Linked DNA regions of Homo sapiens: region 2 is linked to region 1. The links come from fine-mapping of genetic effects on gene expression. Tissue or cell type: stomach. Region 1 holds a variant in brackets; the other region holds the start of a gene. All regions are shown on one strand. Distances are from middle to middle.

Region 1 (5,384 bases):
TTTCCTAGCACAAAATCTTGAATACTCTCAATGCAATGGGCTTCTTGGCCAAGTCTCACCTGCTAGGCCTGATATTTGAACAGTGACTGAATTCAAAATGTGTTACAAGCTCTAGTAAATTTGTAGCTTAAAATTCTTAACTCCAGACACAGGTATACCTGACTGTTACCTAAACTTCACCAAATTGTGTTCCTTTGTATGTGTGCATGCTATTTTGAAGTGGTTTTAGGGTGACAGAGCACTGGAGGAGACAAAACCAAACGAATTCAAGTGGTATGTTTATATACTTAAGTCACCTCAACCACATGGTGTTAAGTAGACTCTGAGTTTAATAATTAAAGGAAAGACACTCATTATTAGAGTTTGGAGATTCAAACTACAGCTGCAATTATAGGAGGGAAGTGGATTTTATTAACATTTAAAATAAAATATAGGAACTCTTTGTATAAAGAGAAAATGCCCTCTTCCTAGGCTGAGGTTCAGAAATAAGTGACTGAGATTATTGCATGCCCCAAAATTCAGAAAGCAATTTAAAGGACTATACCTGTCAGCCTTCTGGCTCCATGATTCCGATTTACCCCAAGAATCAAGAAATAACTTGAGTAGCTTAAAAAAGAGCCTCATTTTCTGATAGTTTCTTACTATCAGAGCAATGGTAGCAGAAGAAGGAAAATAAAATAGAATGTGTCAAACTGAGTAGTAATGAGAAAGATACTGCCTTAAAAGAAATATTGGGATCTCAAAACACAGACTGGGCAGATATGAAGGGGAAATGAAATGCTAGTAGCTGGAAGAGATAACTATAAAGTTAAAAAGTCAATATACTCAGGTCCAACTTCTCTTGAAGAAGGTAATAGAAAAGAGCAATACATTTTAGTTATTGCCATTTCCAAAAGAAACACTAGTACCTAAAAAAAAAAAAAAAAATCTATCAGATAAGAAAAGGAAAAGCCTTGGAGAGCAGATATAATGATTTCCTGGAAAGACTAAGAATCACACTTGCTTTTTAAAACTCCTCTTAAAGTATCAGCATTATTGTAAGAACAATCAAATCACCTTTTCCTTCAAAACTGGAATAGATCTTTCAAGTGGTTAAGAAAATGTGGTCCGATTTCAGACCGAAATCCCAGGAAAATCAGTATAAAGGATGAAAACGCATCTGTGTCAACTGCAAATGAGCAAAATTATTGCCACGGGTGTTCCCTGAGGAAAAATATTTGGAAAATTTGTGGAACTGTTATTCCAGGTAAAAGTAAAGCAAAGAGAGGACTTATTAAAGGGAAATCAGACAAGATGATTCCAGTTGAGTACTTGGTCTGGATCAGCTCTTGGTCTGATAAGATTATCTTTTACATGGGACTTTCCTACTCATAAGGATCAAGATAATCAAGACTTGTTTGAACAAGGGATAAGTGACAAACATCGAACTCACCGACTTCATCTCTCTTAATGTGGGACATTCTCAAGATAAAATTTTGAGAGTGGAAAGTTGGAAAAACAAATGTTTTGGTCAGAGAGTGAAGGGAAAGGAAAAAGAAAAAAGACACTTAGTTCTGGGAAACAATGTTATCCCTATGTGAAATAAAGAAGTAAACAGACCCATATAAGAAGCTGAATAAAAAGTTATAAACCCAGCCGAAACAGTCTTAAAAGTATACAGAAACAATAATAAAAAAAAATACCAGAGGCTTTTGATGTTTCTTGTTGAGAAAAAGACCATAACAGGAAAATACTGTTAAAGACTTGTGAAATTTAAAAGCTAAGAAGAGAAAGGGTTTTGGAGATCATACGGTGAAAATATTAATCATCACTAGACTCTAATGTATCAGAAACATCAACTGCAGCTTCAGGTAAAGAACCTGCTTCCAGTGGTCCTCCAGCTGAAGGAAAAAAATATTCCCAAAGACACAGGAGCCAACTGAAAGAGTTCCCAATGGCCAAAGCTGGGACAAGTTGGGTAAGTAACATTAAATTATAGCCTGAAGTATAAAATAGTTATCCACGAATCCACACTGCTATAAATGAATAAATAAATAAGTAGGGAGAAAGAAACAAAATCCACGCAGAATTCCTAATTATTTATGGAGATGTTGCACCTGATAAAAGGTAGAACATAGCTACCCATTCCTTACATATGAGCTATGCATAGTGACGTCATCCTGAAGAATATAATATGGAAAAGAGGATTGGGGGATTAACTTTATAGTAGAGAAACCCTGACAAATACTGCCTCAGGCAGGTAGTGAAGGTCAATATCAACAGTGGAAGTCGTGTTGGCAGTATGTACCCTTGACAAGATGTGATGAAAGTGGCACTTTACCTCTGAGGTTTTCCTCCCAAAAACTCACAGCCCCAACCTTATCATGAAAAAAAAAAAAAAAATCAGAACTGACAAATCCCAATTGACAACATTCTACCAAATACTTGACTAGTACTCCTGAAACTGTCAACATCATAAAAAGCAAAGAATGCCTGAGAAACTGTCACAGCCAAGAGGAGCTTCAGGAGACATGACTACTCTATGTAATGTGGTACCCTGGATGGGATCCTGAAACGGAAAAACTAAGTAAATTTGAATTAGGTAAAAAGTAAGTAAATTTTAATT[A/G]AAGTGGACTTTAGCTAATAACAATATATCAATATTGGTTCATCAATTGTGACAAATTCTAATATAAGTTGTTAATACTAGTAAAGGAGAGTGACACCAGCAAAAATGGTGAAGTAGGGAAGTCTAAAGTTCCATTCTTCCACAAAAACAGCAAATATGCTGGGCACAGTGGCTCACACCTGTAATCCCAGCACTTTGTGAAGTTGAGACGGAAGCATCATTTGAGCTCAGGAGTTTGAGACCAACCTGGGCAACATAGCAAGACCCTGTCTATACCAAAAAAGCATTAAAAAATATTAGCCAGGTGGCTGGGCGCAGTGGGTCACGCCTGTAATCCCAGCACTTTAGGAGGCTGAGGCGGGTGGATCACGAGCTCAGTAGTTCAAGACCAGCCTGGCCAAGATGGTCTCTACTAAAAATACAAAAATTAGCTGGGCATGGTGGCGGGCGCCTGTAATCCCAGCTACTTGGAAGGCTGAGGCAGAGAATTGCTTGAACCCAGGAGAAGGAGGTTGCAGTGAGACAAGATCACACCACTGGACTCCAGCCTGGGCGACAGAGCGAGACTCTGTCCTGAAAAAAGTAAAATAAAATAAAATAGCCAGGCATGGTTACATGCACCTGGTGTCCCAGCTACTTGGGAAGCTCAGGTGGAAGGATTGCTTGAGGCAGGAGTTCAAGTTAGCAGTGAGCTATGATCATGCCACTGCACTCCAGCCTGGGTGACAGAGCATGACCCTGTCTCAAACAACAGCAACAACAACGACAACAACAACAAAAACACAATTATACAGGCAGAAACGGTCAGAATCAACTTTATTAGAACAATTGAAACCAATCAAATTTTGCAACAACAAAATGAATGCTTAATCAAGAAAAGAGAGTTAAATTTCAGTAAGAGAGATGTGGTGTTAAAGTTACTTTGGCCCCATCTCCTGCTCCCAGCTCAACTTTTTAAGGCAGCCCTAATGACAGCAGCTCACATTTTTTGTATAGGGTCCTAATATGACAGAGAGTAAAATAGATCTCATTCTGACCACAAAGAATTGTGGTTGTTTTGACTTGGCTAGTGATCCCAAAAAAACAAGCCCAAAGGGTTTGTCTTTATTTTAACGAACTCAAATCTCTACCAGTGCTGAGGTGACTACCCAGGGAGAATTTGTTTGAAATATTTATAGGCAGATGTATTTGCCACTGCTGCTGGGGACAAGGAATAATAGAGTTGGAACAAACAATTTACTAACTGAAAAACCTGGGGGCGAAAGACTGGGAAATGAGATGTTTTGGGGAATAAGGGCTCTGAAAAGTTTCCACAAATACCTGGGATTTAGATGACCATATATGTGCCCAGGGATGGGATCATATTCAGAAAATACCTGAGAAGATCCAGAGCTCTTGTCACTGGCTGACCCTCAGGCTCTATGAAAGCACAAATGAAGACTATAGCAGAGTAGTAAGCTTACAAGCTGAAGTGTTGAAGGCATGCCTCAACATTCACATAGAGCCCATATGCAAAGGCTGAAAGATTTCTAATTTTTTGTTGTTGTTTTCGGCTCCAGTAGTTTAAAGAAATCTCTGTAAAATCATTAGCTGAACACCACTAAGCTAACCGAAAAGAGAATCTAGATACAACAATGAATACATACTTTAAAAAATCAGTTCAGAGAAGGCACTAAACAAACAACTACTATAATAAGCAGCAACAACAAACCCCCAAGGAAGAAAGTGAATCTGATTTCTAGAGTTGCCACACTATAATATTCAAAATGTTCAGTCTTCAACAAAAAATTGTGAAGTGTGCAAATAATAAGAAAGTATGGCCCATACACAGAAAAAAAAGGAAAGTAATAGAAATTATCCCTAAGGAAGCTCATCTATTGGACTTACTAGACAGACTTTAAATTAACTATTTAAATATGCTTAAAGCTCTTAAGGAAACCACATACAAAGAACTGAAGAGAACCACTAGAATAATATCACTTCAAATAGAAAACTTCAATAAAGAGACATATTATGAAGTAACCAAAAAAAAATTCTGGATTAAAAAATTATAACAACTGAAATGAAAAATTCACAAAAGAAGTTCAGCAGTACACTTGAGCAGACAGAGGGAAGAATTAGCAAACTTGAAAGTAAGTTCATTGAGATTTCCTAATCTGAGGAACAAAAGGAATAAAGAAAAATCAACAGATCCTAAGAGACCTATGAAATACCACCAAGTATATTAACATTTGCATATTAGGCATCCCAGAAGATAAGAGAGATAAAAAGATAAAAGGACAGAAAGAATATTTAAAGAAATAATGGTCCAAAACATCAATTCACTTGATGAATTACATCCAAGAGGCTCAACAAACTCTAAGTAGGATAAACATAACAAGATTCACAATGAGACACGCTATAATCAAACTGTCAAAAGCAAAAGATAAAGAATCGTAAAAGCAGCAGGAGAGAAGCAAGTCATTATGCACAAGAAATCCTCAATAAGATTAATGGCTGATTGTTACCACAGACCATGGAGGCCAGACATATGAAATATTCAAAGAGCTAAAAGAAAAGACCATCAACCAAGAGATCTATATTTGATAAAAACTATTTTTGAAAAATAAAGGAGAATTTTTTAATAGAAAATCAATATTTTAATAAATAATAGCATTAAAGTACCAGTTTTACATATATACATAACCGACCTGTAACTTTAAGTATTTGGAATAGATGGCTTGAGTTATGCATATAAATTCTTTTAGAAGGTTTTACATATTCTATTTCACAGAGAGTA
Region 2 (5,384 bases), 82 kb after region 1:
TGTTGGGGAATTTTGCATCTATGTTCATCAGGAATATTGGCCTAAAGTTTTGTTTTCTTGTGGTGCCTTTGTCCAGCTTTGGTATCCAGATGATGTTGACCTTATAAAATAAAACTGGAAGTGTTCCCTCTTCTATTTTTTAGAAGCATTTCAGAAGGATTGGTATTAATTCTTCTTTAAATCTTTGGTAGAATTCACCTGTGAAGTCATTTGGTCCTGGGCTTTTCTTCGTTGGGCAGTTTTTGATTACTGATTAAGTCTCCAAACAGGGTCTCACTATGTTACCCAGGCTGGTCTCAAACTCCTAGCCCCAAGTGATCCTCCCACCTTGGCCTCTCAAAGCATTGGGATTACAGGTACAAATCACTGCACACAGCCTCTCAGTCTCCTTTTTGTTATTGGTCTGTTTAACCTTTCTAGTTCTTCTTGGTTCAGTCTTGATGGGTTATATGGTTCTTGAAATTTCCCTTTTTTTTCTAGATTGTCCAATTTTATGGTGTATGATTGCTCTATGTGTTTTTCATTTTTGTGAGATCTGTTGTAATGTCTCCACTTTCATTTCTGATTTTATTTGACTCCTCTCTCTTTTTTCTTACTCTAAGTATTTGTCAATTTTATTTAACTTTTCAAAAAAACAAGTCTTAGTTTCCTCAATTTCTTCTAATTTTTTTCTTTTCTATTTTAGTTATTTCTGTGCTAATCTGTATTATTTCCTCCCTTCTGCTAACTTTGGGCTTATTCTCCACTCTTTTTATAAATCACTAACATCTAATACAGTTACCATTATCAGTCTGATATAATTAGACATCCAATCCTAGGTTTAATGTTAGCATTTCTGTATGCTCAGGAAATTATTCTAAACTGATATCCTGGTATTATTTCAGATTTTCTCAACAACTAATTTTACCTTCTACTGAAATGCTCTCCATCTTGATTGTAAATATAGTTAGTATAATTAATTGCTTTTCTTCTTAAGAGACTAACCTTTATATGACAATTACTGACATTGGATTAAGTTCCACCTAGGATAGGATAGGCAGGGGGTGGATGTCATCTTACCTTAAAAATCTGTTTCACATGAATATAACTGCACCGAATATCTAATTTTTCAAGTAACCTCTGAGTTTTTTCTAGGTTAATTTTTCCACCTCTGAAGTCATCCTGAATCTTTGACAAAAACCATGTAGAAGCACAAAAAAGTTAAGGAAATTCTCACAGAAAGTCATTGAATATTTAAAATTCCTAAAGAAACATTTGATTTACTGTATTATTTTTATTTTTAAAGAATATGTTTAAAGTAAATTATAGTATAATTGTATGATAAATATTTTTTAAAAAACAAAATTAAGTAGTTACTATGCTATGGTAAAGGTATGAAAGGGCATAGCACAGTAAAAATACAAAAAAAAGAATTAAAGTTAAAATTTGAGAATTGAAGTCATTACTTAGAACATACATTAAAACATTATAACAATCTATTGCCTGAAGGCATGAAGTTGGAAGGCAGCTAGACTTCAAGATCGCCTCTCACCTGACCTCTCTGTTTTAGTTCTCTCTTCCAGAAAGGTGAGCAAATTAACCCTGAATCTTAAGGAAAGTGGAAGCATTAGATGAATTCCTAATATGCCACCGAACACAGTTTCTGCTACTTAGTGTTCAATAAATAGTAACCATGACTGATAAAGTTATTATTACTACATTAGTCCAATGCCCAGCTACACACACACTCAAGACAGTACCATCAAAAAGCATCAGAAATACCATGGTGAGTGTATATTTGGTATGAAAAACGAAAAAAATTTTTAAAAGCTTACTTATCATAGATAAACTACAAAAACTAGGACACTTCCATTTGAAAAACTAAGATCGAAATGAGATAATGACAATTATCACTAAAATTATAAAAGGTATAGGTAAAAATTGTGCAAAACTACTAAGTTTCAGATTGTTAGAACGAATTAATGAGATCTCCTTAAATTTAATAGTTATGACTTAATCCAGCAAAGCTCATGTTCTTGTAAGAAAAAGATACCAGAATGCAGGGAAAGTTAGAAAAGCTCAGAACAAACAGGGAAAAGCAGTTCAACTTAAATGAAGAGGACTTAAATTCAGAACTCCTCGAAAAGAATAACAGCATCAAGTAAAGAGGATAAGTAGGAGAAAGAAGAAGAGGAGCAGAAAGAAGCTCTCAATGGATATCTCATTTCCATAGTTTCATGACCTGTAGAGCCGTTTCTCCTCACTTAGAAGTCTTTCCCCAGTAGGTGCTGTCATGGGTTCCAAATACAATTAACTCTGCCCCTTTGCAGAAAATAATTTCTTGATACTCATCAGCTGTTACCACTTTTCTAGGGAGAAAGCAGAGAACACACAGTGGTTTTTTTTGCCTTCGTTCTTTGAAGCTAGCTCACACTTAACCATAGAAACAGTATGCAAGATGTGGTACCTGCACTACCCTGCCCTTGAAACTGTTTGGCTTCTTACGTTCTGACCACCTCCAAACCCACAATATTTGAAAACACAGCTTTCCCTGATGTCTGGCATTTTTCCATGAACTGCCATTGTATCTCCTTTTATTTTTTACTACTTTGTTTAAACCCCTCAAACCTTTCATCATAATATGCTTCCAGTGGGTTTGGGCAGCTACTCTGAGAGCCTGAGTATAAATCAACACCATTGTGATTCCTGAAGTTGCAAAGTGCTGTCACTCTTGAAACTTTGGGCTGCTTCTCTAGATCGTTGACAACATATAATGCACACAGAGACACACCACTTTCGAAGAAGACTGTTCAGGAGGCTAAGTTCTTAAAATCTTCAAAAGAGGTATAGCTGGTTGGCTGGGCACCACACTGTCAGGTGACTGTCATTTTTTCCTTTTGGTCTGAATTCCCATTGTGATATCATCAGAGGTTCCACACTTCACAAGGAAAGCTTCTTATGACCTCATCAGGAGGCTCAGACCTTGCCAGACTGCCTGCTTTCATGGATAGACATAAAAACCTTCAGCTTGAATGTTAACACCTTGATGGGAAAGGTGGCTCATGGAATGTTTTCTTATCCTTTGAACACTCCTCATTTCAGAAGCTTTGCTTCTGTTGCAACCAAACATGACACTTAGCGTGCTGAGCAGGAAGGACAAGGAAAGAGTAATTCGCAGACTGTTATTACAGGCCCCTCCAGGGGAATTTGTAAATGCCTTTGATGATCTCTGTCTGCTTATCCGTGATGAAAAACTTATGCACCACCAAGGTGAGTGTGCAGGCCACCAACACTGCCAAAAATATTCTGTACCACTCTGCATCGATGGAAATCCAGTACTCTTGTCTCACCACAATGTAATGGGCGACTACCGATTTTTTGACCATCAAAGCAAACTTTCTTTCAAATATGACCTGCTTCAAAATCAGCTGAAAGACATCCAAAGTCATGGTATCATTCAGAATGAGGCAGAATACCTGAGAGTTGTTCTTCTGTGCGCCTTAAAACTGTATGTGAATGACCACTATCCAAAAGGAAATTGCAACATGCTGAGAAAAACTGTCAAAAGTAAGGAGTACTTGATAGCTTGCATTGAAGATCACAACTATGAAACAGGAGAGTGCTGGAACGGACTTTGGAAATCTAAATGGATTTTCCAAGTTAACCCATTTCTAACCCAAGTAACGGGAAGAATATTTGTGCAAGCTCACTTCTTCAGGTGTGTCAACCTTCATATTGAAATATCCAAGGACCTGAAAGAAAGCTTGGAAATAGTTAACCAAGCTCAACTGGCTCTAAGTTTTGCAAGGCTTGTGGAAGAGCAAGAGAACAAATTTCAAGCTGCAGTCTTGGAAGAATTACAGGAGTTATCCAATGAAGCCCTGAGAAAAATTCTACGAAGGGATCTTCCAGTGACCCGCACTCTTATTGACTGGCACAGGATACTCTCTGACTTGAATCTGGTGATGTATCCTAAATTAGGATATGTCATTTATTCAAGAAGTGTGTTGTGCAACTGGATAATATAAAGAATTGCTCCTGGTAACTATCTTGATTTGACTTGTTTGTGTTTCTTGGGAATGGTTATTTTCCTAAAATTGAGCAATCTGTAGAGATGTCTCTCACTTAGCCAATGCAAATTTAAATGGGAAAAGTGTAGCAAGTAATTTTACTTGGGGAATATTTATGAACAAGGCAAGAAAGTGTAAAGTAACTGTGTTTCATGGTGGTGACCATCATAAAGACCAAGACATTTGTTAGAAACTAAAATAGTTTTATAGAATCTGGGATTCCAGAAATAGTATAGAGGTGGCCAGGGTTAAGGCTGTGTGTGGGTGTGTACGTGTGTGTGTGTGTGTGTGTGTGTGTGTGTGAGAGAGAGAGAGAGAGAGAGAGAGAGACTTTTGACTGTTTCGAACTGAAAAGGTATACAAATGAATATCACTCCACAAATGATATTTTACATAACTCAATTCAGTCCTAGACCATCCACGAGATGGGGAATTTCAATAAAAGACATTAGGTTTGGATTTTCCACAAAACCAACAGATATCAAAAATCTAGCTCAGATGAAGGACTATTAGTAATTTTGGCTCCTCTTCCACTCTACTTTCTTCCCCTCAAGAATTGGGGTTACTCAAAATCCCTGGCTTGTCTGATAACTAACATGGTCTTCCAAGCCAACCAGAGAAGCCTGACTTCCCAAACTTTTACAGCCAGGCTTTTGTGAAGTCGTCACTGTAAACACTTAGAAGTACTTATTACATAACATGGCTTGTGCTAAATATTTTGCATAACATTTTTCATCACTAATCTGGTACTAGTATTATCTCCGTTGTACCTAAGAAAAACCTAAGTTCTCAAGTTGTTCACATCTTCCAGACACATAGTGTCACAGTTCACTTGTGCTGCTATAACAAAATACCATATATTGAGTAACTCACAAATAACAGGAATTTATTGGTCGCAGTTATGGAGGCTGTGAAGTCCAAGACCAAGTTGCTAGCAGATTTAGTGCCTAGTAAAGGTGTGTTTCCTCATAGATAGGACTTTCTGACTGTGACCTTACATGGTAAAAGGGGCAAAGCAGCTCTGTAGAACTTCTATTAATGGCACTAATATCGTTTATGAGGGCTCCACTCTCATGGCCAATCACCTCCCAAAGTCCTCACCTCCTAATACCATCACCTCGGGGACTCAGTTTCAACATATAAATTTTGAGGGACACAAACAATCAGACCGTACCACATAGTGACAAGTGTATCTGACTTAGTGCTCATGCTTCAGGGTACAACAGTTCCCCATGGAAGCCTATTTCATTATGAGTTATGGACTCTGATGTACATTGATTTTGCCAAGCATTCCACCTTAAAGGATATCCCAGAAGAAATGGAACTTGTGACAGC

The links. PIP is the estimated chance that this variant, and not a neighbour inherited with it, causes the effect. A credible set is the group of variants that fine-mapping cannot tell apart.
Region 2: CAPZA3 starts here. The variant in region 1 is the best candidate, but not a certain one, in a credible set for the expression of CAPZA3 in stomach (GTEx, PIP 0.74).

The regions. Positions count from the first base shown.
Region 1 is chr12:18,653,385-18,658,768 of GRCh38, forward strand. It overlaps a transcript of PIK3C2G not described here and a transcript of PLCZ1 not described here. Among named protein-coding and RNA genes, the nearest start is that of PLCZ1, 82 kb to the right of the region's middle. The variant A/G (reference allele first, on the strand shown) is at 2,606.
Region 2 is chr12:18,735,162-18,740,545 of GRCh38, forward strand. It overlaps CAPZA3 (capping actin protein of muscle Z-line subunit alpha 3), which reads left to right and starts at 2,958. Exons shown (of 1, transcript NM_033328.3): 1 at 2,958-4,027. The coding sequence starts at 3,108. The coding sequence ends at 4,007. PLCZ1 (phospholipase C zeta 1) reads right to left here and starts at 2,851. Exons shown (of 15, transcript NM_033123.4): 1 at 2,771-2,851; 2 at 2,200-2,348; 3 at 1,060-1,183. The coding sequence starts at 2,210.